5 separate regions of the Homo sapiens genome follow, and regions 1, 2, 3 and 4 are each linked to region 5. The links come from fine-mapping of genetic effects on gene expression. A gene starts in region 5. Each other region holds a variant in brackets. All regions are shown on one strand. Distances are between the middles of the regions. Region 1 overlaps EXOC3L2 (exocyst complex component 3 like 2). Region 2 overlaps MARK4 (microtubule affinity regulating kinase 4). Region 3 overlaps MARK4 (microtubule affinity regulating kinase 4). Region 4 overlaps MARK4 (microtubule affinity regulating kinase 4). Region 5 holds the start of MARK4 (microtubule affinity regulating kinase 4).

Region 1 (5,938 bases), 37 kb after region 5:
CCGCCAGATCTTATTTGTACCCAGTTGTATTCAGCTGGGCTGGAAGGGCCTCATTCAGTCGCTCTTCTTGGAGTTCCAAGCCCGGAGTCCTTGGAATGTTTTCTTTGGAAAATTTTTGAGATAATTGTAGATTCACATGCAGATGTAAGAAAGAATGCAGGGAGCTTCCTTGTACACTTTGTCCAGTCTCCATCCCCGCAAAGGCAAGATTTTGCAGACGTGGAAGAGGTTTGGAGATGTTTCCCAGAGTTCCAAATTACCTGCAAAACTGGGAGGAGATTATATTATGGATTTTTCTCAAATGTGGCCATAGTATGTCTTCTGCTACATTTTATTTTTTATTTTTATTTTTATTCTTTATTTTTGAGACAGAGTCTCGCTCCGTCACCCAGGCTGGAGTGCAGTGGTGCAGTCTCCGCTCACTGTAACCTCTGCCTCTCGATTTCAAGTGATTCTCCTGCTTCAGCCTCCTGAGTAGTTGGGATTACAGGTGTGCACCACCACGCCTGGCTAATTTTTGTATTTTTAGTAGAGATGGGGTTTCACCATACTGGCCAGGTTGGTCTCGATGTCCTGACCTCTAGTGATCCACCCGCCTCGGCCTCCTCCCAAAGTGCTGGGATTACAGGCTTGAGCCACCACCCCTGGTTTCTGCTACATTTTAGAGATGGTATAACAAGCCAGGAGGGGCAGGAATTGGCAGGGTCAATCTTGGGAGGGTGTGACCCCGCACCCTCCCTCCCCTGCAGGAGTCCCAGGCCTCGTGGCTGGATGCCGTGGTGCCCCATTTGGCTGAAGTCATGCAGCTGGAAGACACGCCCAGCATCCAGGTGGAGGTGGGAGTGTTGGTGCGCGACTACCCAGACATCAGGTGAGACACCCCGCCTGGGCCAGGGCTCGCCGTGCCTGGCCGAGGTCTCCTGGCGGCCTTGGCATCCGTCCCTGTGCTTCCTGCCTCCTGAGGGAGGGAGCCGGTGAGCGTGTCTGACGGCCGTTTCCTGCTGGAACCAGGGCATTATTAATAAGATTTCCCTCCTTCTCCTGCCGCCGCTGCTGCCTCCGCCGCCACCGCCACCAGGGCTCACAAACAAACAGGCGGTCACAGGAAGCCCAGGGCAGGGGGGCGCAGGGCTGCCTGGAGGCAGGAAGGGCCAGCCCGCAGGGGAGCCGCAGGGGACTCAGGGACACGCAGGGCACACGGGCGCACACGCACTGGGACAGCGGCAGGCGCAGGCGGCATTCAACTCCTGCCAGGTCACTTCCTTTGTAGGTGACCTTCTCGGAGCCTCAGTTTCCTCATCCGTTCCATGGGGATAGTAGTATTCTCGTCATAGGGTTATTAGGGAAATTTATCATCATCATCATCATCATCATCATCCATGACTATAGTAACAATTCCAGTTCTCACTCAATGAGTTCTTATTTCAGACCTAAATAAGCATCTTACATGCCAACTTTTTTTCTTTTTTTTTTGAGACAGGGTCTCACTCTGTTTCCCTGGCTGGAGTGCAGTGGCACAATCACGGTTCACTGCAGCCTTGACCTCCTGGGCTCAAGCAGCCCTCCCACCTCAGCCTTCTGAGTAGCTGGGACCACAGGCATGCACCACAATGCCCAGCTAATTTTTTGTATTTTTTGCAGAGATGGGTTTCACCATGTTGCCCAGGCTGGTCTCGAACTTCTGGGCTCAAGTGATCTGCCTGCCTCGGCTTCCCACGAATGGGGAAGTGTGAGCCACCGTTGCCCAGCCCATGCCAACTTTATAAGGGGTATTTTGTTGTTGTTTGTTTTGTTTTGTTTTTTGAGACAGAGTCTCACTTTGTCGCCCAGGCTGAAGTGCAGTGATCTCAGCTCACTGCAACCTCTGCCTCCCGGGTTCAAGAGATTATTGTGCCTCAGCCTCCCAAGTATAGGCATGTGCCACCACGCCCGGCTAATTTTTGTATTTTTAGTAGAGATGGGATTTCACCAAGTTGACCACACTGGTCTTGAGCTCCTGACTTCAGGTGATCCGCCTGCCTCTGCCTCCCAAAGTGCTGAGATTACAGGCGTGAGCCACTGCGCTTGGCCTATAAGTAAGGGGTATAATTAAAGCTATTGAAATATCACGCCTAGCAAGTGGCAAAGGTGGAACTTGAACCCAGGCAGTAGACTGGCTCTAAAACTAGTACACCAGATCGGCCGGGCATGGTGGCTCACGCTTGTAATCCCAGCACTTTGGGAGGCCGAGGTAGGTGGATCACCTGAGGTCAGGAGTTCGAGACCAGCCTGGCCAACATGGTGAAACACCGTCTCTACTAAAAATACAAAAATTAGCCAGGTGTGATGGCACACTCCTGTAATCCCAGCTACTCGGGAGGCTGAGGCAGGAGAATTGCTTGAGCCCAGGAGGCGGAGGTTGCAGTGAGCTGAGATCGCGCCACTGCACTCCAGCCTGGCCAACAGAGCAAGACTCTGTCTCAAAACAAACAAACAAACAAACAAACACACAAAAAAACTAGTGTACCAGATCAGCACACCACACCACCATGTGACAGTGCTGGATGGTGGTGGCAGTGGTGGTGGCTGCCGGAGCAACGCCAGTCCTTGCAGTGCTATTTGGGCAGACACATTCTCAGACATACTCAGAGAAACAGAACCCCAGAAAAACAAGGAGTGAGGCATGAGCGGGTTTCAGTTTCAGCACTGAGGGTGGGGGTCCTGGAATTGATTCAGGGTGGTCAGTTCTGATTCTGGGGGATAAGGTCATGTCCTTGGGAAGGCACATATTCCTGGAGTCCCATGGGGTCCCAAGAAGTCCCAGTATTCTTGCTGATGTGGAGTTTCTGAACTTGAATATTGGATCATGAGTCAGAACTTGAATCTGTAGCTAAGTTTAAGAGTTTGCTAGCTGGGTTGGGTTTAGGGGGTTGAGCTTGAGATTAGGAGGTACCTAGGGCTGAGGATTTAGGGGGAGTGGGGTACAAGGTTTCTTTCTTTTTTTTACTTTTGAAATGGAGTCTCGCTGTGTCACCCAGGCTGGACTGCAGTGGCGCGATCTCAGCTCACTGCAACCTCTGCCTCCCAGGTTTAAGGGATTCTCTTGCCTCAGACTCCTGAGTAGCTAGGATTACAAGCGCCTGCCACCACACCCAGCTTTTTTTTTTTTTTAATGTATTTTTAGTAGAGAGAGGGTTTCGCCATGTTGGCCAGGCTGGTCTCGAACTCCTGACCTCAGGTGATCCGCCTGCCTTGGCCCCCCAAAGTGCTGGGATTACAGGCATGAGCCACGGCACCCAGCTGAGAAGGTGAATTTTAATCACGAGCTGAGGCTTGGGGTGAAAAGGAAGATCCCAGGGCTGGTTCTGGGGTTGGTTGTAAGGGGGATTTGGAGATGGTTGGAAGTGAAGTTCTGGAGGGAGCTGGTATGAGGTGAGGGCCTGGGCAAGGGAGCTGATTGGAGGGAAGGCTCTGGAGGGGACACAGAGGCCCCAGAACTCAGGCAATTTCTGGGATAGGTGAGGGGGTCAGGTGGGGTCCACGG[C/G]TGGGTTGGGTGTGTGTCTAGAGCTGGGGATCTGCATGCACCTGTCTGTTCCTCTCCCCACAGGCAGAAGCACGTGGCAGCCCTCCTCGACATCCGTGGCCTGCGCAACACAGCCGCCCGCCAGGAGATCCTGGCCGTGGCCCGGGACCTGGAACTCTCTGAGGAGGGAGCCCTGTCACCCCCTCGGGACCGTGCCTTCTTTGCAGACATCCCTGTGCCCCGCCCATCTTTCTGTCTCAGCCTCCCTCTCTTCCTGGGCCGCCTCCCCCTCTCCCGGCTGGCCAGGCCCAGTTTGGCCTGTCTGCCTCGGCCCCGGCCTCCGTCTCTAGCGCGACCTCGGGCCCAGCGCTGAGGGTCACCCAACCGCCGGCCTTAGTGACCCCATCTATGCTGCTGACAAGCCAACCTCCCGTACGGCGCCCCTCCTGACTCCCTGCCTGGGACCACACACCCCTGGGATAGAAAGACCCTTAGATGTCTTTTCACCCAACCCCAAACTCCCTGTACAGAAGGGAAACAAACGCCAGGCACGGTGGCTCATGCCTGTAATCCCAACACTTTGGGAGGCTGAGGCCGGAGGATTGCTTGAGCCCAGGAGTTCAAGACCAGCCTGGGCAACATAGTGAGACCTGCCCCCTATCTCTACAAAAAATAAAAAATTAGCTGGGCACGGTGGTGTGTGCCTGTAGTCCCAGCTACTGGTGAGGCTGAGGCTGGAGGATCACTGGAGTTCGAGGCTGCAGTGAGCTATGACTGTGCCACTGCACTCCAGCCTGGTCAACAAAGCAAGACCCTTTCTCAAAAAAAAAAAAAAAAAAAAAAGGTAGGGGGAAACAGAGGCCAAAGAGACAAAGCATTTTCCCAAGGCCATGAAGCCTGTTCCCAGCACCTCCCCTCCTGCCATAGCCCAGAGTGGTGAGTGTCGTTCTGGAAGTCTCTACAGAAATATCCCAGCTCCCCCGCCCCTTTCCCTCACCTCAAGGTCTGGCCCCAATCCAATGTATTAAGGAACGTTCGATACTTAGAATAAAGAGGTTTCTATTTAACACAAGGAAGGGCTGAGTCCTGAGTGTGTTGTGGGGAGGAAGGACCGGGGAAGCAGGGCCCCGGGCCAGTGGCTTCTCACACACCCAAGGCCGGGCTGGGCTCCAGCTCCTGGGCAGGGTAGTGGAGGTAGAGGGAGGCTGCATGTGCTGGGAGCGACGCCAACCCATGTACACCTCCTGGCTGTGTGGCTCTGAGGCCAGGCCTTCGCCACTCTGAGCCAGGGTCCCTCGTCTGGTCAATCTCAAAGTGCCTGTCCATTCCTGGTCCTGGTGGCTCCATCTTGGCACACCCTCCCCATCCATCCTTAGCCGGGAAGCTGCCCTGTCAGGAGAGGAAGGAGGTTGGGGGCAGGGCTGGCGGCATCCAGGGCGCCCTCCTGGGTTGACGCAGGAAAGTCTCGGGGTGGGAAAATTTCCAGCCTCTCACCCCCAGCCCCGCCGGATCCTAGTCCCCACGGAGACCTTGAGGTCACCTCCCTGCTGACTCCTGCCCCTCCGGCCTGGGCTGGACAGCCCGTGATGGATGTTTCCTGACTTGTGGGATTTTTTGTGTGTATGTGGTTTTTTTTTTTTTCCCTGAGAAGTCAGAAAGAGGAGGCAGCCAGGGGTTAGCACTGGGGCTGGGTTTGGAACTTCACGCATGCACATTTGAACTTGGGGAGGTAGAGACGAGGGACTCTCGGAGCCCAAGGCTGTGCTTCCTGACCCGAGGCAGGAAGCTGCCCCTCTCTGGGCTGAGGTTCCTGTGCCTTTCTGGGGGAATTGCTTAAACTCTCTTTCCCCAGGCTGAGGCAAGAATGTCCTGAGGGTGCACCTTCCTCACTTTGCCCTCTGAAAATGACATTTTCTTTTTTTTTTTTTTTTCAGTCAGAGTCTCATTCTGTCGCCCAGGCTAGAGTGCAATGGCGCGATCTCAGCTCACTGCAACCTCCACCTCCCAGGTTCAAGCAATTTATTCTCCTGCCTCAGGCTCCTGAGTAGCTGGGATTACAGGTGCCCCCCCTCCACCACCACCATACCCAGCTAATTTTTGTATTTTTAGTAGAGACGGGGCTTCACCATGTTGGCCAGGCTGGTCTCCAACTCCTGACCTCAAGTGATCTACCCGCCTCAGCCTCCCAAAGTGCTGGGATGACAGGCATGAGCCACTGTGCCCAGCCCGAAAATGACACTTTTTATGTTGCCAATATGCAAAAGAGCAAGAGAGGAGTTGAGGAATCAACAATATTGTGCAGTCCATAGACATTTATTATTTATTTTTTAGAGACAGGGTCTTTGCTCTGTTGCCCAGGCTGGAGTGCAATGACACGATCATAGCTCACTGCAGCCTCTACCTCCTAGCCCAAGTGATCCTCCCACCTCAGCCTTC
Region 2 (5,938 bases), 34 kb before region 5:
CCAGAACTGACTCTGGGGGATCGTTGGAACCTGAGAATTCCTCACGTGGGTTGCAATCTCTGTGTGGGCCATTCTGACAATATCTGTCAAAATTACCTCAAGATTACCAACGCACATATACTGACTTAGAAACTCCAAATCAATGACATCATGCACATACAGGCCATTCATTGCACCTTCTTTTTTTTTTTTTTTTTTTTGAGACAAAGTCTGGTTCTGTTGCCAGGCTGGAGTGCAGTGGTGCGATCTCCGCTCACTGCAACCTCCACCTCCTGGGTTCAAGCAATTCTCCTGCCTCAGCCTCCCAAGTAGCTGGAATTACAGGTGTGTGCCACCCCACCTGGCCTGTACCATTAGACTGGGAACAGCCTAAATGCCCCTTAGTAGAGGAATGACTAGATAAGTCAAGGTATTTCCACAGTGGAAAATTATGCAGCTATAAAAAAGAATAAGGAAGCACTTTATGCACCAGTACAGAATGATCTTCATGACGGACTGGAAAGTAGAAAAGGCAAGACAAGAGATGGGTCAACAATGTGTTATCATTTGTCTACAAAAGCAAAAAAGTGTGTATCTATATCTACTTGCTTATATATGAATATCTCCAAAGGACTATAACTTGTTTCAAAAGGGGAGAATTTATTGTTTTTATATATCTTAAGTTTCCTTCTTTTTTTTAATTTTTTTATTGAGACAGGATCTCACTCTGTTGCCCAAGCTGAAGTACAGTGGTGTGACCTCAGCTTGCTGCAACCTTGGCCTCCTAGGCTCAAGCCATCCTCCCACTTCAGCCTCCCAAGTAGCTGGGACTACAGGCACACACTACCATGCCCACCTAATTTTTGTATTTTTTTTTGTAGAGACAGGATTTCGCCATGTTGTCTAGGCTGGTCTCAAACTCCTGGACTCCAGCGATCCTCCCACCTTGGCCTCCCAAAGTGCTGGGATTACAGGCGTGAGCCACCGCACCCGGTCCCATATTTATCTCTTTACATGTTTGTTTATGAATAAAATCTCTCCAAAGGAATTCATATTAAAACCCATAACAGGGCCAGGCGCGGTGGCTCACGCCTGTAATCCCAGCACTTTGGGAGGCTAAGGCGGGTGGATCACAAGGTCAGGAGATTGAGACCAGCCTGGCTAACATGGCAAAACCCTGTCTCTACTAAAAATACAAAAATTAGCTGGGCATGGTGGCATGCACCTGTAATCCCAGCTACTTGGAAGGCTGAGGCAGGAGAATCGCTTGAACCTGGGAGGCAGAGGTTGCAGTGAGCAGAGATCACACCATTGCACTCCAGTCTGGCAACAGTGCGAGACTCCGTCAAAAAACAAAACAAAAACAACAACAAAAAACCGTAACAGTTGCTGCATTTGAGAAACTGGGAGCTGGGGATATGTGTTGGATGAAGACTTTTTCACTGTCTATCCTTTCCAAACTAACACATTTTCAAGGATGTTATTGTATGAACAATTTCAAAAGCAACACAAAATAATTCTGGTCTCTAGGAACATCTTAGGAATCTACTGTTTTAGAACCCGGGGGTGAAAAGTGATCTCAAACTTGAGAGGGTCAGAAGGTCTGCTTGTTACATCCTCAGGAGCGATACATGCTCAGAAGTCCCAGAACCACAAGCTGAGAGCTCTACAATGACAATGACAGATACCTGGCACCTGCCAGCAATCCCTCTCTGAGAATCCCTGGAACTCAGGTCTCAGTGTGGGGAGTTCTGAAGGTTACCACGTTCTAACCATATGATACCAAAGTCACAAGCTCCTTAGGAACTTTCTGGGCACGCCCTGTCATTTTACAGGTGGGAAAGACAAGACGCAGGGGCAGGGAATGGTTTGACCTCCAGCAATGGTGGGGGTAGGGCAGAAGCACCACTTCCCGTGTGGGGCTCATGCTGGGTCTCAGATTCCCTGACACCTCTCTCCTCCCTCACTTCAGTGTGGAGGGGAGGTCAGAGCGCAGGCTTTCAGCAGCCACTTTGTGCAATGTGTCCTCCTGTGCCCCCATTACAGCAGATTAATCCCAACTGGACTCGATATCAGAGCTCCATCCTGATCCTGATGAGTGGACCAAGGAGATTCTAGCTAACACTTGGGCTGGATTCTTTTTTTTTTTTTTTTTTTTTTTTGAGACACGGCAGTCTGGCTCTATCGCCCAGGCTGGAGTGCAGTGGCACGATCTGGACTCATTGCAACCTCGGCCTCCCAGGCTCAAACCATCCTCCCACCTCAGCCTCTCAAGTAGCTGGGATTACAGGTGCACACCACCATGCCCAGCTAATTGTTTTGTTTTGTTTTTGAGACAGAGTCTTGCTGTTGCCGCCCAGGCTGAAGTGCAATGGCACAATCTCGGCTCACTGCAACCTCTGCCTCCCGGGTTCCAGCAATTCTCCTGCCTCAGCCTCCCAAGTAGCTGAGATTACAGGTGCTCACCACCACACCCGGCTAATTTTGATATTTTTAGTAGAGACAGGGTTTCACCATGTTGGCCAGGCTGCTCTCAAACTGCTGACCTCAGGTGATCCACCCAGCTCGGCCTCCCAAAGTGCTGGGATTACAAGGCAAGAGCCACTGCGCCCAGCCTAATTTTTGTATTTTTCTGTAGAGATGAGGTTTCATCATGTTGCCCAGGCTGGTGTCGAACTTGAGAGCTCAAGTGATCCACCCAATTCAGCCTCCCAAAGTGCTGGGATTACAGGCGTAAGCCACTGCACTCAGCCCTGGGCTGGATTCTAAAACTGAGATGTAAGAAATCTAGGAGCGGGCCAGGCGCGGTGGCTCATGCCTGTAATCCCAGCACTTTGGGAAGCCAAAGCCAAAGCAGGTGGATCATGAGGTCAGGCGATCAAGACCATCCTGGCTAACACAGTGAAACCCCATCTCTACTAAAAATACAAAAAATTAGCTGGGCGTGGTGGTGGACACCTATAGTCCCAGCTACTCGGGAGGCTGAGGCAGGAGAATGGCATGAACCCGGGAGGTGGAGCTTGCAGTGAGCCAAGATTGCGCCACTGCACTCCAGCTTGGGCAACGGAGCGAGACTTTGCCTCCAAAAAAAAAAAAAAGAAAAGAAATCTAGGAGTGGCTGGGCACAGTGGCTCACGCCTGCAATCCCAGCACTTTGGGAGGCCGAGGCGGGTGGATCACCTCAGGTCAGGAATTCAAGACCAGCCAGGCCAACACGGTGAAACCCTGTCTCTACTAAAAATACAAAATTAGCTGGGCAAGGTGGCTTGTAATTCCAGCTCGGGGGCCTGAGGCAGGAGAATCAGTTGAACCTGGGAGACTGAGGTTTCAGTGAGCCACCATCGCACCACTGTACTCCAGCCTGGGCGACAGAGTGAGACTCTGTCTCAAAAAAAGAAAAAAAAGAAGAAATCTAGGAGCTGAGAGATCTAGAAAAAGATAAGGTGAGATATGTAAGACAGAGAAAAAAAAGATTAGACAAGCAGACAGCCTAGTACCTGTCCCAGAGTAAGAACTTCACCCCTGCAGACAAGCAGGGCTGTAAAACGAACAGAGTTGGAAAACACCCTGAAAGTTCCTCAAACTATTATTAAACACACAGTTACCAGATGACTCAGCAATTCCACTCCCAGATACGTACCCAAGAGAAATGACGGCAAAACACAGCCACACAAAAACA[C/T]GGATACAAATGTTCACAGCAGCATCATTCACAACAGCCAAAAAGTGGAGGCAATCCACGTGTTCATGAATGGATAAACAAAATGTGGTCTATCTATGCAATGGAATATTACTTGCCAATGAAAAGGAATGAAGTGCTGATACCCATATCATGGATGAACCTTGAAAACTTTCTGCTAAATGAAAGAAGCCAGTCACTGAAGGCCACACATCGTGTAATTCCATTTACCTGAAATGTCTAGAATAGCCAAATTCATCGACATAGAAAGTAGATTAGTAGCTGAGGGTGGAAGGGGGATTGGAAGTTGATTTTTTTTTTTTTTTTTTTTTTTTTTTGAGAGGAAGTCTCACTCTTATCGCCCAGGCTAGAGTGTAGTGGCGCGATCTCAGCTTACTGCAACCTCCGCCTCCCAGGTTCAAGCAATTCTCCTGCCTCAGACTCCTGAGTAGCTGGGATTACAGACGCCTGCCACTACGCCCGGCTAATTTTTGTATTTTATAGTGGAGATGGGGTTTCGCCATGTTGCCCAGTGGTCTCGAACTCCTGCGCTCAGGTGATCTGCCTGCCTCAGTCTCCCAAAGTGCTAGGATTACGGGCATGAGCCACCATGCCCTGCCTGGAAGTTGATTGCTAAAAGTTGTGAATTTTCTTTTTGGGGTAATGAAAATGTTCTGAAATCGGTCATCATGATAGATGTACAACTCTATAAATATATTAAAGCCACTGAATTGTGCACTTTTTAATTTATTTTTTGAGATGAGGTCTCGCTCTGTAACCCAGGCTGGAGTACAGTGGCGCGATCACGGCTCACCACGACCTCGATCTCCTGGGTTCAAGTGGTCTTCCTACCTCAGCCTCCCAAGTAGCTGGGACCACAGGCGTGTACTACCACACCTAATTTTTAATTTTTTAGGGGGCGGGGTGGCGGAGTCTCGCTCTGTGGCCCAGGCTGGAGTGCAGTGGCGTGATCTCGGCTCACTGCAACCTCCACCTCCCAGGTTCAAGCAATTCTCTGCCTCAGCCTCCCGAGTAGCTGGGATTACAGGTGCCCGCCACCATGCCTGGCTTTTTTTGTATTTTTAGTAGAGACAGGGTTTCACCATCTTGGCCAGGCTGGTCTTGAACTCCTGACCTCGTGATCCTCCCACCTCGGCTTCCTAAAGTGCTGGGATTACAGGCGTGAGCCGCTGTGCCTGGCCAATTTTTAATTTTTTTGTAGAGACGGGGTCTTGCTATGTTGCCTAGGCTGGTCTAGAACTCCTGGGCTCAAGCAATCCTCCTGCCCTCAGCCTCCCAAAGTGCTGGGATTACAGGCGTGAGCCACCATGCCCGGCCTGAATTGTGCACTTTAAATGGGTACGTTGTTTGGTATATGAATTTTAACCTTAATAAAGCCGTTAAAAAAAATAGAAGAGAGGGTTAAAATTTGATGAGTGTGTGGGTGAAGGGACCTCTCAGAAGTCTCCATGCCTAATGGGTGCTGATGGTGGTGTGTATCCTTTTTTTTTTTTTTTTAATTTTTTTGAGATGAGGTCTCTCTGTTGCCCAGGCTGGTGTGCAATGGCATGATCTCGGCTCACTGCAACCTCCGCCTCCCAGTTTCAAGCAATTCTCCTGCTTCAGCCTCCCGAGTAGCTGGGATTATAGGCACGCACCAACACGCCCAGCTAATTTTGTGTTTTTAGTAGAGACAGGGTTTCACCATGTTGGCCAGGCCGGTCTCAAACTCCCAACCTCAGGTGATCCACTCACCTCGGCCTCCCAAGGGATTACAGACATGAGCCACCGTGCCTGGCCCAGATTTAAACTCAGACTCTGTATTCATTTTCTGCAGCAGATGAGATGTCTGTCAGTTGCAGAATGTGGGGTATAATCAGCTGTCCGCCCAGCTCTCTTCCAGAGCCTCCTTTACTTCAGTGTGGAGGCAAAGCCAGAGGGCAGACTCTCAGCAGCCACTTTGTACAACGTGTCCTCCTGTGCCCCAGTTACAATGGATTAATTCAAACTTGACTCTGATATCAGAGCTTCATCCTGGACCAGAGATTCCAGCTGCCATTTGGACTGGTCTCTAAGGTAAGAAATTGGGGGCTGGGTGCAGTGGCTCACACCTGTAATCCCAGTACCTTGGGAGGCTGAGGTGGGTGGATCATGAGGTCAGGAGTATAAGAGCAGCCTGGCCAACATGGTGAAACCCTGTCTCTACTAAAAATACAAAAATTAGCCAGGTGTGGTGGCAGGTGCCTGTAATCCCGGCTACTCAGGAGGCTGAGGCACAAGAAT
Region 3 (5,938 bases), 56 kb before region 5:
TATTTATTTATTTTGAGATGGACTCTCACTCTGAGGCCCAGGCTGGAGTGCAGTGGGTTGATCTCGACTCACTGAAACCTCCATCTCCCGGGTTCAAACGATCCTCTCACCCTCCGCCTCCTTAGTAGCTAGGACGACAGGCATGTGCCACTGTGCCCAGCTAGTTTTCGTATTTTTGGTAGAGACAGCGTTCTGCCATGTTGCTCAGGCTGGTCTCGAACTCTTCACCTTAAGTGATCCGCCCACCTCAGCCTCCCAAAGTGCTGGGATTACAAGCGTGAGCCACCATGCCTGCCCTCAGGTTTTTTTTTTTTTTTTTTTGAGACAGGGTCTTGCTCTGTTGCCCAGGCTGGAGTGCAGTGGTGGGATCATAGCTCGCTGCAGCCTGGACCTTCCAAGGTCAAGTGATCCTCCCGCCTCAGCCTCCCCAGTGGCTTGGACTACAGGCATGTGTCCCACCATGCCTGCTAATTTTTTAAATTTTGTAGATATGTGGGTCTTGCCATGTTGCCCAGGGTAGTCTTGAACTCCTGGGCTCAAGCAATCCTCCGGCCTTGGCCTCCCAAAGTGCTGGGATTACAGGCATGAGCCACCACACCCGGCCATTTCCGGATCTTAATATTTTATGTTCTTTTTTTTTTTTTTTTTTGAGATGGAGTCTCGCTCTGTTGCCCAGGCTGGAGTGCAGTGGCGCGATCTCGACTCACTGCAAGCTCCACCTCCCGGGTTCTCGCCATTCTCTTGCCTCAGCCTCCTGAGTAGCTGGGACTACAGATGCCCGCCACCATGCCCAGATTTTTTTTTGTATTTTTTAGTAGAGACAGGGTTTCGACGTGTTAGCCAGGATGGTGTCGATCTCCTGACCTTGTGATCCGCCCGCCTCGGCCTCCCAAAGTGCTGGGATTACAGGCGTGAGCCACCGCACCCAGCCTTAATATTTTATGTTCTAAGATCCTGCTTCTGAGATGCTAGGATTGGGAGCTAACACACTACGATGGGAAGATTTTCTGGTCCTGAAACCAGATGTAGGATTACCAAGTGTTATCAGTTCTGATCCCAAGCTTCTGTTTGTCAAACATCCTGAGATCCCAAGGATCTATAATAATACTGTTCAAAGACTTAAGTCCCTAAAAGTCCTTGATCCCAGGATTCAGCGTTTTGCAGATCCTGTGACATTAGAGTCTACAGGTTTAAGCTTCTGCGTTTTGAGGAGGCAGATGCCACCCACCTCCCACCCCTCAGGCCCTCTTCCCCCATCGGTGGGCAGATGTTTTGGGGGAGGGCTGGGAATGGGGTTCCCACGGGGCTGACACCTTGGCCTCTTGCTGCGGCACCTTACTCTAGGCACAATGACAACAAGAGCTTCCTGGTGTGGGTGAACGAGGAGGATCACCTCCGGGTCATCTCCATGGAGAAGGGGGGCAACATGAAGGAGGTTTTCCGCCGCTTCTGCGTAGGGCTGCAGAAGGTGGGTGTCTGCCCTTAGCTGCTGACTTCTGACTCCACCTTGAACGCCCCACCTGCTTTCCGAGGCCCCGCCCCTTCCCCTATACTAAGCCCTGCCCCACCCATTTTCCAGGGCCCTGCCCCCCGGACCTGGCTCCACCCCATGCCAAACCCCGCCCCCCAAAACTAGCCCCACCCGCTTTTCAGGGCCCCGCCCCTGGACCCAGCTCCACCCTATGCCCAAGCCCCGCCCGTAAGGATCCGCCTTCAGGCCGGGAGCGGTGGCTCACGCCTGTAATCCCAGCACTTTGGGAGGCTGAGGAGGGTCAGGAGTTCAAGACCAGCCTGGCCAACATGGTGAAACCCCGTCTCTATACTAAAAAATTAATAAATAAATAAATTATCCAGGCGTAGTGGCGCGCGCCTGTAGTCCCAGCTACTCGGGAGGCTGAGGCAGGAGAATCGCTTGAACCTGGGAGGCAGAGGTTGCAGTGAGACGAGATCACGCCATTGCACTCCAGCCTGGGTGACACAGAGAGACTCTGGAAAAAAAAAAAAAAAAAACCCGCCTTCAAAGCGTTCTTAGTCCCCGCCCCTCAAAATCCTGCCTTGGTCCCCATTGTCTAGCCAGCACCCTCGGAATCTCCTACCTCCCTGTTCCCCTCAGAATCCCACCTCCACCACGTTCCCACGCCCTGTCCCTCCGGACCCTGTCCATGTTGCGGGTGCATTTGGGGGTGCCTGCCGGCGCTGACCCCTGGTCCTCTCTCTGAACCTCAGATTGAGGAGATCTTTAAGAAAGCTGGCCACCCCTTCATGTGGAACCAGCACCTGGGCTACGTGCTCACCTGCCCATCCAACCTGGGCACTGGGCTGCGTGGAGGCGTGCATGTGAAGCTGGCGCACCTGAGCAAGCACCCCAAGTTCGAGGAGATCCTCACCCGCCTGCGTCTGCAGAAGAGGGGTACAGGTACGGCTCCCACATCCTTTGCACCACGACGGAGGGGGAGCGAGGGCCCTTTGCAGGGATGCAAGGAGAGGTGCGACATCCCTGCGAGTTCTGGGGATCCGGCAAGGGCTGACCCTCTGTGAGCTTGCATTTCTTCCTCTGTAAAATGGGTGTCAATATGCCTATGTGATAGGAGTCAATGTGGGATTTTCATGATTATATAATATGCATTGCACATGCCCTTGGACCTCCCTCGGGGCCTCAGTTTCCCCATTTATAAAGCGAGGAGTGGTCAGGATTCGACCCTAGGCCGCCTGGCTCCAGAACCCACTCTCTTACCCACTATACTATGTTTGATAACTGAGTGGCGTGGTACCCCATCTGAAGTCAGAGACTCGTGAGCTCACGAATGAACAGGCATTACCTGTGTGCAGGTAACCTGTTACACAGTAGGCACTCACTACATGCGGCTGTTGCATTTGGCACGGGGGCCACGTCCCAGCCCCTCTGCACCTTCGCTGCCTCTTCACGCCCCTGTCCCTTGCTCCCACAGGTGGCGTGGACACAGCTGCCGTGGGCTCAGTATTTGACGTGTCCAACGCTGATCGGCTGGGCTCGTCCGAAGTAGAACAGGTGCAGCTGGTGGTGGATGGTGTGAAGCTCATGGTGGAAATGGAGAAGAAGTTGGAGAAAGGCCAGTCCAT[T/C]GACGACATGATCCCCGCCCAGAAGTAGGCGCCTGCCCACCTGCCACCGACTGCTGGAACCCAGCCAGTGGGAGGGCCTGGCCCACCAGAGTCCTGCTCCCTCACTCCTCGCCCCGCCCCCTGTCCCAGAGTCCCACCTGGGGGCTCTCTCCACCCTTCTCAGAGTTCCAGTTTCAACCAGAGTTCCAACCAATGGGCTCCATCCTCTGGATTCTGGCCAATGAAATATCTCCCTGGCAGGGTCCTCTTCTTTTCCCAGAGCTCCACCCCAACCAGGAGCTCTAGTTAATGGAGAGCTCCCAGCACACTCGGAGCTTGTGCTTTGTCTCCACGCAAAGCGATAAATAAAAGCATTGGTGGCCTTAGCTTTGTGCGATAGTTATTGAGGGAGGACGTGCAATTGGCCACTGTGTGGTCTCAGAGTGGTTTGTCCTGTCTAGGCATGTACTAAACATGTCTTATCCCGGGTCTAAAATGAGGCAAAGTTAGGTCACAGAATCTAGTCCAAAAATTAGAAGGCTCTATGGGGAATCTGAGACCCAGAGAGACACTGAGCCCAGTGTCACTCACCCAAAGCATGGGCCCTTTCCAACTATGGCTTTGAATTAGTCATGCTCAGATCTCAAACACGAGGTCCACGCTGGGGAGGAATGCAGCCAAACGAAATGTCTGAAACTTGAATTTAGCCCAACGGTCTCCAGTTTTGAGACCTCCCATGCAGCTCGTCACATCTACCTATATTCTGCTTCTCAGTGGCCTCCTTCTGTCCCGTCTGACTTCATCCCTCTGTAGCTGCTGCCAGTCCCTTACTTTCTCAAGAACCTGCCATGGCTCCCCATTTCTCCTAGAAAGCTTTTCTGTTATTTTGCAACTCAAGGCCACACTGAAATGCATACCATTTGCTGGAGGCTCACCTTTCCAGTTCTTTCCCCATTACTCCTCTGATTCTTTCACACCTGACACCCTCCAATTCCCACCTCAATGTCTTTGACCAAGCTGTTTCCCTCTCCAATCTGTGAGTCTGAGCATCCCCATGAAGTCTTTAGGGATAGGCCTTTTGGAGAACTCAGTCCCAGGAAGGAACAGGAAAGAGGTGTGGTAGAGCAATTGGTGGAGGGAGAAGAGTTAATAGAAGTCAAGCAGTAGCTGAACATGCATTGGGTGTTGGGCACGTCAATCACCTCCACCCAGTCAAACAGGCCAATGTCTACGTTAACAAGGACACAGTCGGTGGGCCCCAAAAGACAAACGTTTTAGGGAAAAAAAAAAGTGAGGTGGGAGTAAATGGAAGAACCGACAAAGCCCTCAGGAACCTAAGGTGCTTTTTCAAACCTCAAGAGTCACAGAGATTAAGGGCCCTTGTAGTTCAATCTGCCCTCTGTTTTACAGAGGGGAAATTGAGGCCTAGGGATGTCCCCAAAAGTTCCCAGGGAGATTACTACAAGGAAGGTTAGGAGAGATTCTAAACATTAAGGTATGCAGAACCTGTGAGATGCTGTGATGTTCTTTACTGTACTGTCCCCAGTTGAAGATCCCAGCTCCACACCCAGAGGCTACATAGACCACACACGCCAGTGGGGACCTTCTGAGCCAGCCAAAGCCACAGTCCAGACACCTGTTACCAGGTCCTGCCCACTTTGCCTCACAGGACTCTCTTAAATCTATCTGCGCTCTCCCCATCTGTCCAGCCCCGACCTCTTTCCTGATCTTCTGACCTGTCAACTTCCCTCCCTTCCACCCTGCACATAGCACAAACCCGCCCATCTCTACCCTACCTACAACCTTGCCATGGCTCCCCCAGTGCCCTTGGAAGAAAGCCCAGGCCCCTGTCCATAACCTTCAAGGCCCTACTGACGCCCCTAGCCCCATACCTCACAGCAATTCTACACTTACAAAGTCACATGCCATTTGTTGAGGACCTGTCCTCTCTCTTGCTCCCTGGCCCTTGTATGTGCCATTTGCTGTGCCTAAAACGCACTCCTATCCATGTCTAGCTGGCTCCTTCTCCTCCAGGAAGCCCTCCCTGGCTGAGGCAGGCATCACCTCTGGACTCCCCTATACCAGCCCTGCCCAGTCGCTGCCTGAGGACACATCTGCCTCCTCCATTGGACTGTGAGCTCTATGAGGGCAGTGTTGGGGCTGTCTTGATTACCACTGTGTCCCCAGCACAGAGGATGCTCTCAGGAATTGACCAAGCCTCTTCCCTGAAGTTCCCTGAACTTCCATGGTTCCCCAGTGCCATGGGGAGAAAGTCCAGCTTATTCATTTTGGCCCCAAAGGTGCTGTGTGAATAAGCTCCGCCCTTCTGTACTGCACAGACTTCAACCACTATAATCTGTCCAGCTCCCATGCCTTTTCTCCTGCTCATGACACTTGACCTTCCTTTGAGGAACCCCTACTAAGTGCAGCTCTGAGTCTGGCCACTCTAGAGTCACAGTGATTGGTTTAGAGAAAATCACATGGCCCATTTGGGCCAATGAGAGTCTGCCCTGGGACTTTTGCTGGGAAACTGACAATGAGGGTCTTTCTGCTGCAGAAAGCTGGAGGGATAGAAACTTCTAACTGCTGAAGTCATCTGTGCCACCAGGAAAGGAGCCCTTACTTGATAAAAATTACTAGAATTCAACTTACACTGAAAAAATAGATGCAATGGCCTGATGCCTGGATCAAACCTACCTGAAGCCAGGTGCCCCTGGACTATTAAGTAACATAAACCAACAAATACCTTTTTGCTTAAGCAGCGTAGATGGATTATTAGTCCTAATACAGCATTTCTCTTGCTGATTCTCCATCCATGCCCAACACAGCAGCCACACTGAAATTACCCAGTTCTCTGAAG
Region 4 (5,938 bases), 46 kb before region 5:
GAAGATGAAAGGGAGGGGAGTGGGCAGAGACACACCCTTACATAGATAAGTGGCCACAGAGAGAAAGAGAGAGACACACGCACGTGTGCACACACACACACTCCCTCGCTCACATATACATTCATGCTTTGCTCAAACAACACCTCCTTCGTGAGGCCTGCCCTTTTTTCTTTTTTTGAGACAGAGTCTCACTCTGTCATGCAGGAGTGGCGTGATCTCAGCTCGCTGCAGCCTCAACCTCCCAGGCTCAAGCAATCTTCCTGCCTTGGCCCCTGAAGTAGCTGGGACTACAGGCGCGTGCCACATCTGCTTTTTGTTTTTTGTTTTGTTTTGTAGAGATGGGGCTTTGCCACATTGCCCAGGCTGGTCTCAAACTCCTGGACTCAAGTCATCTGTCCAAAGTGCTGGGATTGCTGGCCTGAGCCACCTCATCCAGAGGCCTGCCCATTTAATGCTGCACCCCATCCCTTCCCCACACCCCTTATTCCCCTCCCTGTTCAATTTTTTTTTTTTTTTTTTTTTTTTTTAGAGACAGGTTCTCCCTCTGTTGCCAAGACTGATGATCATAGCTCACAGCAGCCTTGACCTCCTGCGTTCAAGTGATCCTCCTGCCTCGGCCTCCCAATTCCATGGGAATACAGGTGCAGTCACCACGCCCGGCCAATTTATTTACTTTTTTGTAGAGATAGGATCTTGCTACGTTGTCCAGGCTGGTCTTGAACTTCTGGGCTCAAGTGATCCCCTCGCCTCAGCCTCCCAAAGTGCTGTGATTACAAGCATAAGCCACCAAATTTGGCTCCTACTCTATTTTTCTTCTTAGTTACTTCGCACTACCTAGCAGTCTATATAGTAAGTATATTTTACTTATTTCTTTGTTTTTTGTCTAGATCCCTTAGTAGAATGTTGGGTCTGCCAGGGCAGGAGTTTTGTACATTTTGCTCACCCTCTACTACAGGGCCTAGGACAGTGCCAGGCACACAGTAGGGGCTCAATGAATAATAGCAATTAATAACTAATACACATGTAAAGCACTTTCCAAGGCAATGTTCTACGCTCAGTCCATACGTCACTTCATTTAGTCCTCACAATAACCCTAGGAGACAGGTATTGTTATTACTATACCCATTTTACAGAAGAGGAAAACCAGGCCCAGAGACCTTGAGTGACTTGCTCAAGGTCACTTGGCAGAGCTGCCATTTGAACCCCCGAGTCTGGCTCCATAGGCTGTGCTTCTGTGAGTAAATGAACAACCAGACCCCACGCACAGACCCTCACATCCACAGAGCCCCCTCCCAATGCCCGCACACACAGGTCAGACATGCAGGCAGGGAGGCAGAGCCAGCGAGAACAGGGCATGGACGGGACTTACTGATCTTGGATCCCTGGGGCAGAGAGGCGCCCGAAACACAGCGGTTAGAGTTCTGCCGTTTAGAGGGATCGAGGGTAACCCTGCAGTGTGAGGAGGGAGGTGAGGGGTGACAGGGGAGGAGGAAAGGAGGAGGAGGAGGAGGAAACGAGGAGGAGGAGGAGGAGGAAGAGGAAATGTTGGGGTACAGGAGACAGAGCAGAGTGGAAGACAGGTTAGGTCCCATCGGCCCCCCGCCCCGCCCTGCCCCTGCCATCCCCGCGGAGCTCACCTTCGGGTCAGTTTGGAGGTCAGCTTGGTGAAGAGGTTGGTGGTGGGGCGGGGCCGCCCGGCGGGCAGGGGTGCAGCCTCATGGGCCAGTGTGGGAGAGGCAGGGGGCCCATTCTGCACACCCCCACCACCCCCACCCCCTGCCCGCCGGTCCCGGACCTGGCCACCATGGAAGGTGCTGCGGATGGTGGAACCACGTGCCAGGCGGCTCCGCTCCCCTGATGGGGGTGCCAGGCTGTGACTGGAGGGGGAGGCAGGGGGCACCCGTGGGGTGCCTGAGCTGTGGGCAGAGACAGACAAGTCAGGGTGGGGGACTGAGGCAGGCCAGGGCCCCAGTCCCTTTGATTCTTCACATTCCTGTCCTGAGACCAGGGACTGCAACCAGCCTGGAACTCAGAGACAGGGCTGCAACGTACAGTTGTGCAGGCTGTGCACTATACAATCCTAGCATTATTTTACTGACTCTCTCCTCTCCTATTACCCCTCCTTCAAACTGTCCCTTCTTCAAACTCTACCCGCTCCAAATCATCTCCTATCACAACTCTCCTCTCTCTAAACGCAGCAACTGAATAGATGCACAGACATTTTTGGGTGACTTCCTTGCTATTTGCCGAAACCTCAGGAACCAAATCAACTTGGCAAACACTTTGCTATCTGAACTCTCACCATCTAAAATCAGGAAAGGGATAGATGTAAAGGTCAAGGATACCTGTATTCACTATGGTAATCTGGGCAGTGGGGGTTCCACTGTCCCAGGACCCTCCTCCAGCCCCTCGGACCCTCCTAGTCGACAGCAGGGGCCAGACCTCCATCTCCTGAGTTCAATTCTCCTGCCTCACCCTCCTGAGTAGCTGGGATTACAAGCGTGTGCCACCATGCCTGGCTAATTTTTTTTTTTTTTTTTTTTGAGACAGAGTCTCACTCTGTCACCTAGGCTGAAGGGCCATGGGGCAATCTTGGCTACTGCAACCTCTGCCTCCTGGGTTCAAGTGATTCTCCTGCCTCAGCCTCCTGAGTAGCTGGGACTATAGGCATGCAGCACCACGCCTGGGTAGTTTATGTATTTTCAGGAGAGATGGGGTTTCACCATGTTGGCCAGGCTGGTCTCAAACTCCTCACCTCAGGTGATCCACTGGCCTTGGCCTCCCAAAGTGCTGGGATTCCAGGTGTGAGCCACTGCGCCCAGCCCAGACCTCCAATTTCTATCCTCCCAGGGACTCCAGGCCCAGCCTGGATCTCAGAGAAGAATCCTGATTGTGGCAGAGGCTGTTACTTCTCCCTTAGAATCCATCCTCCCTGTTTCGTTCTTGGTAACCAAACCCCTAAGAGTATGAGCACTGCACATGGCCACCCAGCCAGAGACTACATTTCCCAGACTCTCTTGCAGCTAGAGATGGTTATGTGACCATGCTCCGGCCAATGGGATATAAGCAGAAGTGCTCTGTACCATCTCTGGGTGACGCCTTTACAAAGAGTTGTTGCTTGTCCCCTACTCTTTCCCCACTTCTT[C/G]CTGATTGGGAAATGATGGCTGCTGGTGCAGCGGCCTCAGTCCCAGAGCTGGAAACTCATTTTGGGGCTGGAAGAACTTACCTGGGTCCTTGGAGGACCCTCCGGACTAAACGTCCTTTTTATTTAAATTACTCTACCCTGGGATCTCTTTGTTTTTATTACAGCAGCTAGCTGAGTCTATACTTTTTATTTTTTGTTGTTTTTAAATTTTTTTTTAATTTTTGATTTTTTTTGTCTGAGTCTGTAATTTAACTGTTCCACTATCTCTTGAGCAGAACTGGAAGGCCATGTACTACAGTGATTACAAATAAGATTCTGGAGTCAAGTCTGGAATCTGCTTCTTGACTTACCAGCTGTGTGGCCTTGGATAAGTTACTTAACCTCTCTGTGCCTTATGTCCTCAGCTGTAAAATGGAGATATTAGGATCTACCTCACAGAGTTGTTAGGGGCACTGAGCCAGGCAATAGACATAGAAGCCTGGCATGTAGCTGCTGCTTCATGAATGTTCACTATTGTTATTTGATAACCACCAAAAAAAAGCACTCTCAAGTCACTGAATGAAGGCCTCCTAAGCATCAGACCCAGTGCCAGGTACAGGACACACCTGATCTCTACTGCATCTCTATAATGGGGCCTGGAAGTGGACAGCATCAGCCCTTTTTTTTATGAGACGGATTCTTGCTGTGTGGCTCAGGCTGGAGTACAGTGGCGCAATCCCAGCTCACTGCAACCTCTGCCTCCCAGGTTCAAGCGATTCTCCTGCCTCATTCAGCCTTCTGAGTAGCTGGGATTACATGCACATGACATCGTTCCTGGCTAATTTTTGTATTTTTAGTAGAGACAGGGTTTCATCATGTTGGCCAGGCTGGTCTCGAACTCCTGACCTCAGGTGATCTGCCCACCTCGGCCTCACAAAGTGCTGGGATTACAGGTGTGAGCCACCATGCCCGGCCAGCATCAAGCCCATTTTACCGAGGAGGAAACAGAGGCACAGGGATTTACCCGGTCATTCTGCTAGCAGTGTGAGCACAGAGGTAAGATTCGAACTCAGAACTGAGTATTCACAGAATCGTGACTTTTTTTTTTTGAGATGGAGTCTCGCTCTGTTGCCCAGGCTGGAGTGCAGTGGCGTGATCTCGGCTCACTGCAAACTCCGCCTTCCAGGTTCACGCCATTGTCCTGCCTCTGCCTCCAGAGTAGCTGGGACTACAGGTGCCCACCACTGCACCCAGCTAATTTTTTTTTTTTTTTGGTATTTTTAGTAGAGACGGGGTGTCACCATGTTAGCCAGGATGGTCTCGATCTCCTGACTTCTTGATCCACCTGCCTCAGCCTCCCAAAGTGCTGGTATTACAGGCATGAGCCACTGTGCCTGGACAGATTTGTGACTGTTAACTACCCCATTCCTCTGCCCACACCCAGTGGGAACACCTGCACCCACTAATCAGGTGCATCCCAGAGTGTGCCCTGGTGTTGGCCATCAACCTGCCCTACAGCCCTGGTGGGGGGCAGTGTCCTCATCCTGGAGCTGGCCCCATTCTAGCTGGCCTTGACCTGTGATGTGAACCAATCCCTTCCCTCTCTCTGCTCCAGCCAGTCTGAACTGGTTTCCCTCCCTTGCCAGCTGGAAGAGACCTCACAGACTCAGGCCAACAAGCCGGAAAACCAGCCAACCAGATGACGCTGAAGCTGTGACATTCTGGGGCTTCTCTCGAGTTCTAAAAATGGATCATTCAAAAAATCAATTCAGGTTCCCAAGGCTTGTAGGCGGAGAACAGGGCCAACTGCTTTCCTGGTGCTTAAGACTAATTAATTAAGTGGGGAGGATTTTCAGGGGGGTACATGGGTCGATTCTGCCAAGGGCAGGGCAGATACACTCACTCTCTGGTCCCCATGGCACCAGCCTCCAATGCCTATCATCTCAGATCAAGGGAGGTCCTGTTCACCTACCCCCTACTTCCCACCCCTCACCCTGTTGCTGCCCCCTCCGTACCTGTTTTCTTTCCCATTTGGCAACAGTGACGGGCGCTCAGCCCCCGGGCGTTCTGTGCAAACGTAGGTGTTTCTGCGGGTCATCATGCTAGGAGGGAGGTTGTTCTGCAGGAGACACAGCCAGGAAGGGAGTGAGGGGGTGAAGACATGCCCCTGAGCTTCTCCCTCTTCCCTTCTCTGCCCTCCCCATCGATGAATAAGTCAGGGGCTCATGTGGGAACCCAGGGTGAGTAGGAGATGGTGAAAGGTCCCAAAGATGTGAAAGGTTCATGAGTAATCCCAGCCACCGAGGCTGAGTCAGGGGAGACCCCTGGAGACCGGAGAAGAGGGGGGCACTGAGGGAAAACGAGGCAGGGAAGGTTTCCAGGGGGCATCCTTGTCCACCGCTCTTCTCCCAGCAATGCCCACCTTCTTGAGGTCCAGCCCAGCCACACCAAACGTTTGCTAATGTACTTATTCATGCCACATTCTGTCACTGTGACTAGCCTGTGCACTGGCTGTCTCACCTGTTAGAACATTACTCCTACCTTTTCCCCTGACTCACTCCTACATATCTTTCAGGTGTCAGTTCATAATCTACCACCACCCCCGGCCCCAGGCTGAGTCACGTGCCTCCTCCTTTGGGTTCCCACAGGCCCCTGGGCTCCCCACTGCAGCTTCAATCACTGTGCTGTCAATGTCTGTTCTCATATATGTCCCCATCCCATACTGGGCTGTGAGCTCTGGGAACACAGGGAATATCAGGATTATGCTGCCTCATAAACATGTTAGGAAGAGAGCCCTCTTTTTCTATTCTCTGG
Region 5 (5,938 bases):
AATAACAGCCCTGAGCTGAGAATCCACGGGCTGTCTGACTCATACCCACAGCCACAATAGCAGCTGGCATTTGTGGAGTGCTTCCTAGGTGCCAGCCTTCGCCTGAATCGAGTAAGCCTTGGAGGCACTCAAGCGGTCACCCCTATTTTCCAGGGCAGGAAACTGAGGCTCAGAAAGGGAGAACTGGTTGTCTGAGGACACAAGGCAAACCAGCTGGCCATGTCAGCATTGGAACCCAGGACTGTGGAGCCCCTGGCACCTCACTGTAGATTGTAGTGACCAAGGAACAGAGGTGGTAGGCATTTCATTAGACTCCAAATTGGAGTTCTGGCCCATAGTGATGATGCGGGGTGGTCTCTGTGAGGGAGGGATCTGCAAGATGAGGAAGGGACAGATATAAATCTCTCTGATGGTGTGTGTGTGTGGGGGGGTCTGTCGGAGGTGAGGGAAACAGGGGGAAGGGGAACAGGGACCTGGCAGAAGGATTTGGAGAAAGCCACAAAGATCCCAGGTGGGGAGAAGTCTAGGATTGGGTGGTGGGCAGGTCTTTGGAAGTGATCAGTGATCAGAGACACAGGAGATGGGGAGGGGCCTCTCTGGGAAGCAGTGTAGGGGCAGGGGGCGCCTGGGAATGGTGGAAAGTGACAAAGCCATGGGGGCAGTGGAAGTCAGAGGCCAGGAATCCCTGGGTCTTGGGGAAGCTCCTAGGAATCAGAGAAGGGGGCTTCTAGGAGAAGTCCTTGAAACCAGAGAAGGGTCTGGGGGGCCTGGAAGTATGGGGTAGGAACTTCTTGGGCAAGGAGCAGCCCAGATGAATAAAGGCTGAGCCCTGGGGAAGGTCAAGGGGTCTAGAAATTTGGGGAGAAAGCTTCCAGCAGATTGACCCAAGGGAAAAGGGCTTGAAACCAGGGCAAGACGAGAGGCTTCAGGTCCAGGAGTTTTCTGGAAGAAGGATCTGGGGCCAGGCCCTGTAGCTGAGGAAGGCCTCTGAAGCTGAGGAGGGGGCTTCCTTGGAAGGCCAGACTCCCAGCAAGGAAGGGGGAGGCCCTGGGGCAGGAGAAAGGACGGTGGTTTGTGGGGAAGGGGTCTGAGTTTGGCCTAGCAGGGGGTCCAGAGGTTGGGGGTTGGGGAAGGGGCTGCCTGAAGCTGAGAAGTTGATAGAGGGCGGATGAGGCCTGGAGTCAGACTGGTCCAGGGCCTAGAAATACCAGCCTGGGTGAGGTGAGGGCCTAGAAGTTGGAGGCCAAGGCTTCCTGGGAGAGGAAGAGACCAGAAAGGGTCCAGGTGGCATCTGGGGGCCCCGGGGTGCTGGGATCTAGGGACAGGGCTGCTTGGAAGATGGGGACCAGGCCTGGGACGGGAGAGACCTTGAAGAAGCCAGAAAAGGGCCGGGGCCCAGGAGAGGTGGAAACCAGCTTCCTGCCAGGGGCTGCCCACAGGCGCCCTGGGTGCGTCCTGGAGGGGCAGAGGGCTGGGAATAAGAGGAGGGGGGCTCCTGGGGAGCCGGCACCCAGCCCCAGACAGGGAAGGCCGGAGCCAGAGGCAGGACTGGGCCAGGCCCTGCTGAGAGTGCCAGGGCCGGGCCTTGGGGGGTCAGGGGCCCTGCAAATCCGGGAGGGGGCGAGGTGTCGGACGCGGACGGCCTGGAGGGGAAACGGCTTAGCACAGGCAAGAGAAGGGAGGGGCTCCTGGAAGCAGGGGAAGGGGCTTCCTGGAGGGAACAGACCCGAGCGGAAGCGGTCTGCACGGGGACAAGAGAGGGGTCCCGAGAGAGGGGCGCCCCCAGGGGTCGGGCTGGGCTGGAAAAGGTGGGGAGGGTGGAGAGGCCTGGAAGTCCGGGAGGGGTCGAGAGGTGACGAGCCGGGTCGGGCCCAGGAAACGAGGGTAGGGGCTCGCGGGGCGAGGGGTACAACGGGGAGAAGGGTTTGGCGGCTGGACCCAGCCAGGGCTCCCCAAGGGGCCGGGCCCCACTCACCGTGTCCGAGTTCCGATCGTTGCCCGGGGCCAGCACCGTCCGCGAAGACATCTTCTCCGGGTCCCGGGGGGCAGGGGCGGCCGGGTGGGGGGGGCGGGGGTCCCAGGGTCCCCTCTCTTCCCCTCCCCCCCCGCCGGCCTGGGGACGCGAGCTCAAAAGCTGGGCGCCGAGAACGCCCGGGTCCGCGCGGCGGGAGAGGGGGCAGGGCGGGGGAGGGGAAGGGACGCCGAGGGTCCTAGTGGCCCCGTGCAGCGGGGACCCCGGGCGCCATGGGGGCGGCGGGCAGGCGGGCGGGCGGGGGCCGCGGAGGGGGCGCGGAGCCGGCCCAAGCGGCGGCGGAGGGAGGCGGTGGAGGGGCTGGGGAGGGAGGAAGGGACGTCAGGGGGAGGGGCGGGCAGGGCGGGGCGCCGGGACCCCGCCCCCCGCCGCCGGCCCTTAAAGGCGCAGGCCCGGGCTGGTCGGGGCGCCGGGGGCTCCGGGGGCTCCGGGGGCGGAGGCGGGTCTGGGCACGCCGGCGGGGAGCGTGTTCTCGCCCGAGACGAGAGGCGCACTGGAGAGGAGAGAAGGGGAGAGAGAGGCCGGGGCAGAGCGCCAGAGACGCAGAGAGAGAGATCGAGAGACGTAGAGATAGAGAGACACGAAGAGAGAGAGACGAGTTACAAAAGGGTGGAGAGGCGCAAGGAGATGAAGGAAGAGCCAGATGACAGAGAGAGAGAGACGCAGGGAGACAGAGACAGAGAGACCCAGAGACGCAGAGGGACAAAGACTGAGAGAGACCCCACACACACACAGGGAGAGACAAAGAGATACAGAGACGCAGAGATCTGTGAAGAGATAGAGATAAAGGGACTGAGCCAGAGAAGACCCCAGAGGCGCTGCCCACATTGTCCCTCCCCCTGGCCCATTCTCTCCCCAGTTGGCGGGGGGGAGCGGGGGAAGCTCTCCCCTCGGAGGCCTAAGGGTGGGGTGGGTGAAGGGGATGGTGTGCGGGGCTTGGCCACTGCTGAGGGCTCAGTGACCTCCCTAGTCAGGCTGCCTCCACTCAGCCACATAGATCCAGACCCGCAGGTTGGGGCTGCAGCATCCACTCCTTTGCACCCCAGCTGGGGTGTGGGGACCCTCTCTGTCCACCTGTATGACCCGGGGCAAGCACTTGCCCTTTCTGGGCTTCACTTTCCCAGTTTGTAAAGTGAAAGGAAGAATCCGTGTGTTGCTCACTGGCAGGTGCGAAGGAACCCTGTGCAGGTATTCGCCTGCAGGGCACAGCCACTCCCCATGCGGGCAGGCTGAGACCAGAGAGGACAAGAGCCTCTCGGAGGCCACACAGCGCTGTGGGGACCATCCATGCTCTGTGGACCAGGGTGGGATGAAAGAAAGACAGGCATTACATAGTCTTGGCCTGGGAGTCACATGGTTTTGGGAAGGGGTCTGTGCCCTGCCTTCTTCTATCTGAGGCTTATTTTCCTGAGCCTCAGTTTCCCCTTCTAAAACAGCAGTGTGCTGGATCTGGCTGGAGCGAGCTGATTGTTATGTCTCAGGAATTTTGGAACTGGTTGTTAAACACAGCCATTATTAAAAATTAAATTATGCAAACATACAATTAAATTACATTAAAGGTACAAGTAATACATACTCATCACGTCCTAGTTATCTTACTACATTTGCCATTATCTGTGATCTTGAGGTTACCTACGTCTATTGTAGCTGCACAGTAAAATTACTATATAATGGGGGGCAAAAATGCCATGTGATATCACCTTGGTAGCTTGAAATTAGCCATGGTGGGAATATTTACACCATGGAAATTGGCAAATGCTACAAATTAAGGCTCCACACCCCCACCTGCAGAGAGCTGGGGGTGTTTTGTTTTGCTTTGCTTTGTTTTGTTTTTGAGACAGGGTCTCACTGCATTACCCAGGCTAGAGTGCAGTGGCACGATTATGGCTCACCGCAGCCTGGACATCCCCGGCTCAAGCAATCCTCCCAGCTCAGCCCCACCAAGTCACTGGGACTACAGGTGTGCACCACCACGCCCAGCTAATTTTTTGTAGCCATATTGCCCAGGCTGATCTCCAACTCTCAGGCTCAGGCGATCCTCCCACTTCGGCCTCCTAAAGTGCTGGGACTACCCTGCACTCAGCCAAAAGCTGGTTGTGAAAGCACAGCACTGCTTGATACTATGAGCAACACAGACTCATGGCAGTTGCCCTTGTGCCAGGCTCTGAGCAGTTTCTCCTTTCTGCCACCCCAAGAGGTAGGGAGCATCTTTATCAATCCCATTTGCAGATGAGGAAACAGAGGCCCAAGGAAGGGAGAAACGTCACACGCTGAAGGTCACACGGCAAATTAGTGGCAGGGCTACAATTTGAATCCAAGTGCTCCCAAGTTCCAGAACTTGGACCCTCTCTCAACCACTGTGGTTTCCTGTCTCCGAAAAATAATAGCAGCAACCTCAGGCTGCTACTATTTTTATTTGTCAATTTGTTTATATTTATTTGTTATTTTAATGTTACTGCTAACAAATAAATGAGAATCTTTGAGTAAAGTGCTTCACAGGGGACCAGATTCAAAATTCATATGTGGGGACATTATTATTACTATTTGGCAAATATGGCCCGAGGAGCCTCAGGGACAGTGGCAGAGAGGGTGGAGTTCCGGGGTAGTGTTCTAGACGTACTGTGATCCCAGGGACGCCGCAGGGTGAAAGTGGGGGTCTTGGGGGTAGGCTAGAGGGGCTGAGCGCCCCCAACCCGTTCCCTGCATTGGCGCTGAGAGCTGCAGTTCTACCGTGCACCACACGGGGGCAGCCGATCACCTCCCTACACGCGCCCCACACACTCCAGGGTCCACCCCTGCCCTCCCTTCCCCAACAGCGTCCCCACCCCATTTCCCAGATGTGGGGGGACCGAGGCTTACAGAGAGGGAGGCTGCAAAGTGGATGAACCTTGAAAACAGCATGTGGCCGGGCGCGGTGGCTCACGCCTGTAATCCCAGCACTTTGGGAGGCCGAGGCGGGCGGATCACGAGGTCAGGAGATCGAGACCACGGTGAAACCCCGTCTCTACTAAAAATACAAAAAATTAGCCGGGCGCGGTGGCGGGCGCCTGTAGTCCCAGCTACTCAGGAGGCTGAGGCAGGAGAATGGCGTGAACCCGGGAAGCGGAGCTGGCAGTGAGCTGAGATCGCGCCACTGCACTCCAGCCTGGGCGGCAGAGTGAGAATCCGTCTCAAAAAAGAAAAAAAGAAAACAGCATGTTTAGCGAAAGAAGTCAGACGCAAAAGACCACTTACTGTATGCTTCCATTCATATGAAATATTCAGAATTGGCAAATCCATAGACAGAAAGTAGATTAATGGTTGCCAGGGGTTGGAGGCTGGGGAATGAGAAATGACTGCTGATGGGTACCAGGTTTCTTTTTGGGGTGATGAGAATGTTCTGGAATTAAATAGTGGTGACGCTTGCTGCAACCTTGTGAATATACTAAAACCTACCGGACTCTGTTTGAAAAGGGTGACTCTTATGTATGTGAATTGTATTTCAATAAAAAATAATAATAAAATTTAAAAAGGGGGCTGGACGCGGTGACTCACACCTGTAATCCCCGTACTTTGGGAGGCCAGAACGGGAGGATCACTTGAGCCCAGGAGTTCGAGACCAGCCTGGGCAACATAGTGAGACCCTGTCTCTAAATCAAAATAAAAAAAATAATTTTTAAAAAGGAGGGGGACGGGCACGGTGGCTCACGCCTGTAATCCCAGCCCTTTGGGAGGCCGAGGCGGGCAGATCACGAGGTCAGGAGATCGAGATCATCCTGGCTAACACAGTGAAAACCTGTCTCTACTAAAAAAAATACAAAAAATTAGCCGGGCGCTTGCAGGTGGCAAGCGCCTGCGTCCCAGCTACTCGGGAGGCTGAGGCAGAAGAATTGCTTGAACCCAGGAGGCGGAGGTTGCAGTGAGCAG

What was found. PIP is the estimated chance that this variant, and not a neighbour inherited with it, causes the effect.
Region 1: its variant is fine-mapped to the expression of MARK4 in monocytes (BLUEPRINT, PIP 0.95).
Region 2: its variant is fine-mapped to the expression of MARK4 in whole blood (TOPMed, PIP above 0.99).
Region 3: its variant is fine-mapped to the expression of MARK4 in skeletal muscle (GTEx, PIP 0.93).
Region 4: its variant is fine-mapped to the expression of MARK4 in whole blood (TOPMed, PIP above 0.99).

What each region holds. Positions count from the first base shown.
Region 1 is chr19:45,211,006-45,216,943 of GRCh38, reverse strand. EXOC3L2 (exocyst complex component 3 like 2) reads left to right here. Exons shown (of 12, transcript NM_001382422.1): 11 at 750-871; 12 at 3,587-4,574. The coding sequence ends at 3,875. It also overlaps a transcript of BLOC1S3 not described here. Among named protein-coding and RNA genes, the nearest start is that of EXOC3L2, 31 kb to the left of the region's middle. RefSeq lists an enhancer at 498-1,032. The variant C/G (reference allele first, on the strand shown) is at 3,524.
Region 2 is chr19:45,281,465-45,287,402 of GRCh38, reverse strand. The region is part of intron 12 of MARK4 (microtubule affinity regulating kinase 4); the gene reads right to left. Among named protein-coding and RNA genes, the nearest start is that of MARK4, 33 kb to the right of the region's middle. The variant C/T (reference allele first, on the strand shown) is at 3,659.
Region 3 is chr19:45,303,939-45,309,876 of GRCh38, reverse strand. MARK4 (microtubule affinity regulating kinase 4) reads right to left here. Exons shown (of 17, transcript NM_001199867.2): 17 at 4,593-5,938. It overlaps CKM (creatine kinase, M-type), which reads left to right. Exons shown (of 8, transcript NM_001824.5): 6 at 1,345-1,468; 7 at 2,227-2,416; 8 at 2,949-3,464. The coding sequence ends at 3,127. Among named protein-coding and RNA genes, the nearest start is that of CKM, 16 kb to the left of the region's middle. RefSeq lists a silencer at 1,190-1,347. The variant T/C (reference allele first, on the strand shown) is at 3,100.
Region 4 is chr19:45,293,654-45,299,591 of GRCh38, reverse strand. It overlaps MARK4 (microtubule affinity regulating kinase 4), which reads right to left. Exons shown (of 17, transcript NM_001199867.2): 14 at 5,140-5,243; 15 at 1,638-1,916. Among named protein-coding and RNA genes, the nearest start is that of CKM, 26 kb to the left of the region's middle. The variant C/G (reference allele first, on the strand shown) is at 3,146.
Region 5 is chr19:45,247,677-45,253,614 of GRCh38, reverse strand. It overlaps MARK4 (microtubule affinity regulating kinase 4), which reads right to left and starts at 2,344. Exons shown (of 17, transcript NM_001199867.2): 1 at 1,976-2,344. The coding sequence starts at 2,026. RefSeq lists an enhancer at 880-1,436 and silencers at 1,910-2,059, 2,290-2,669.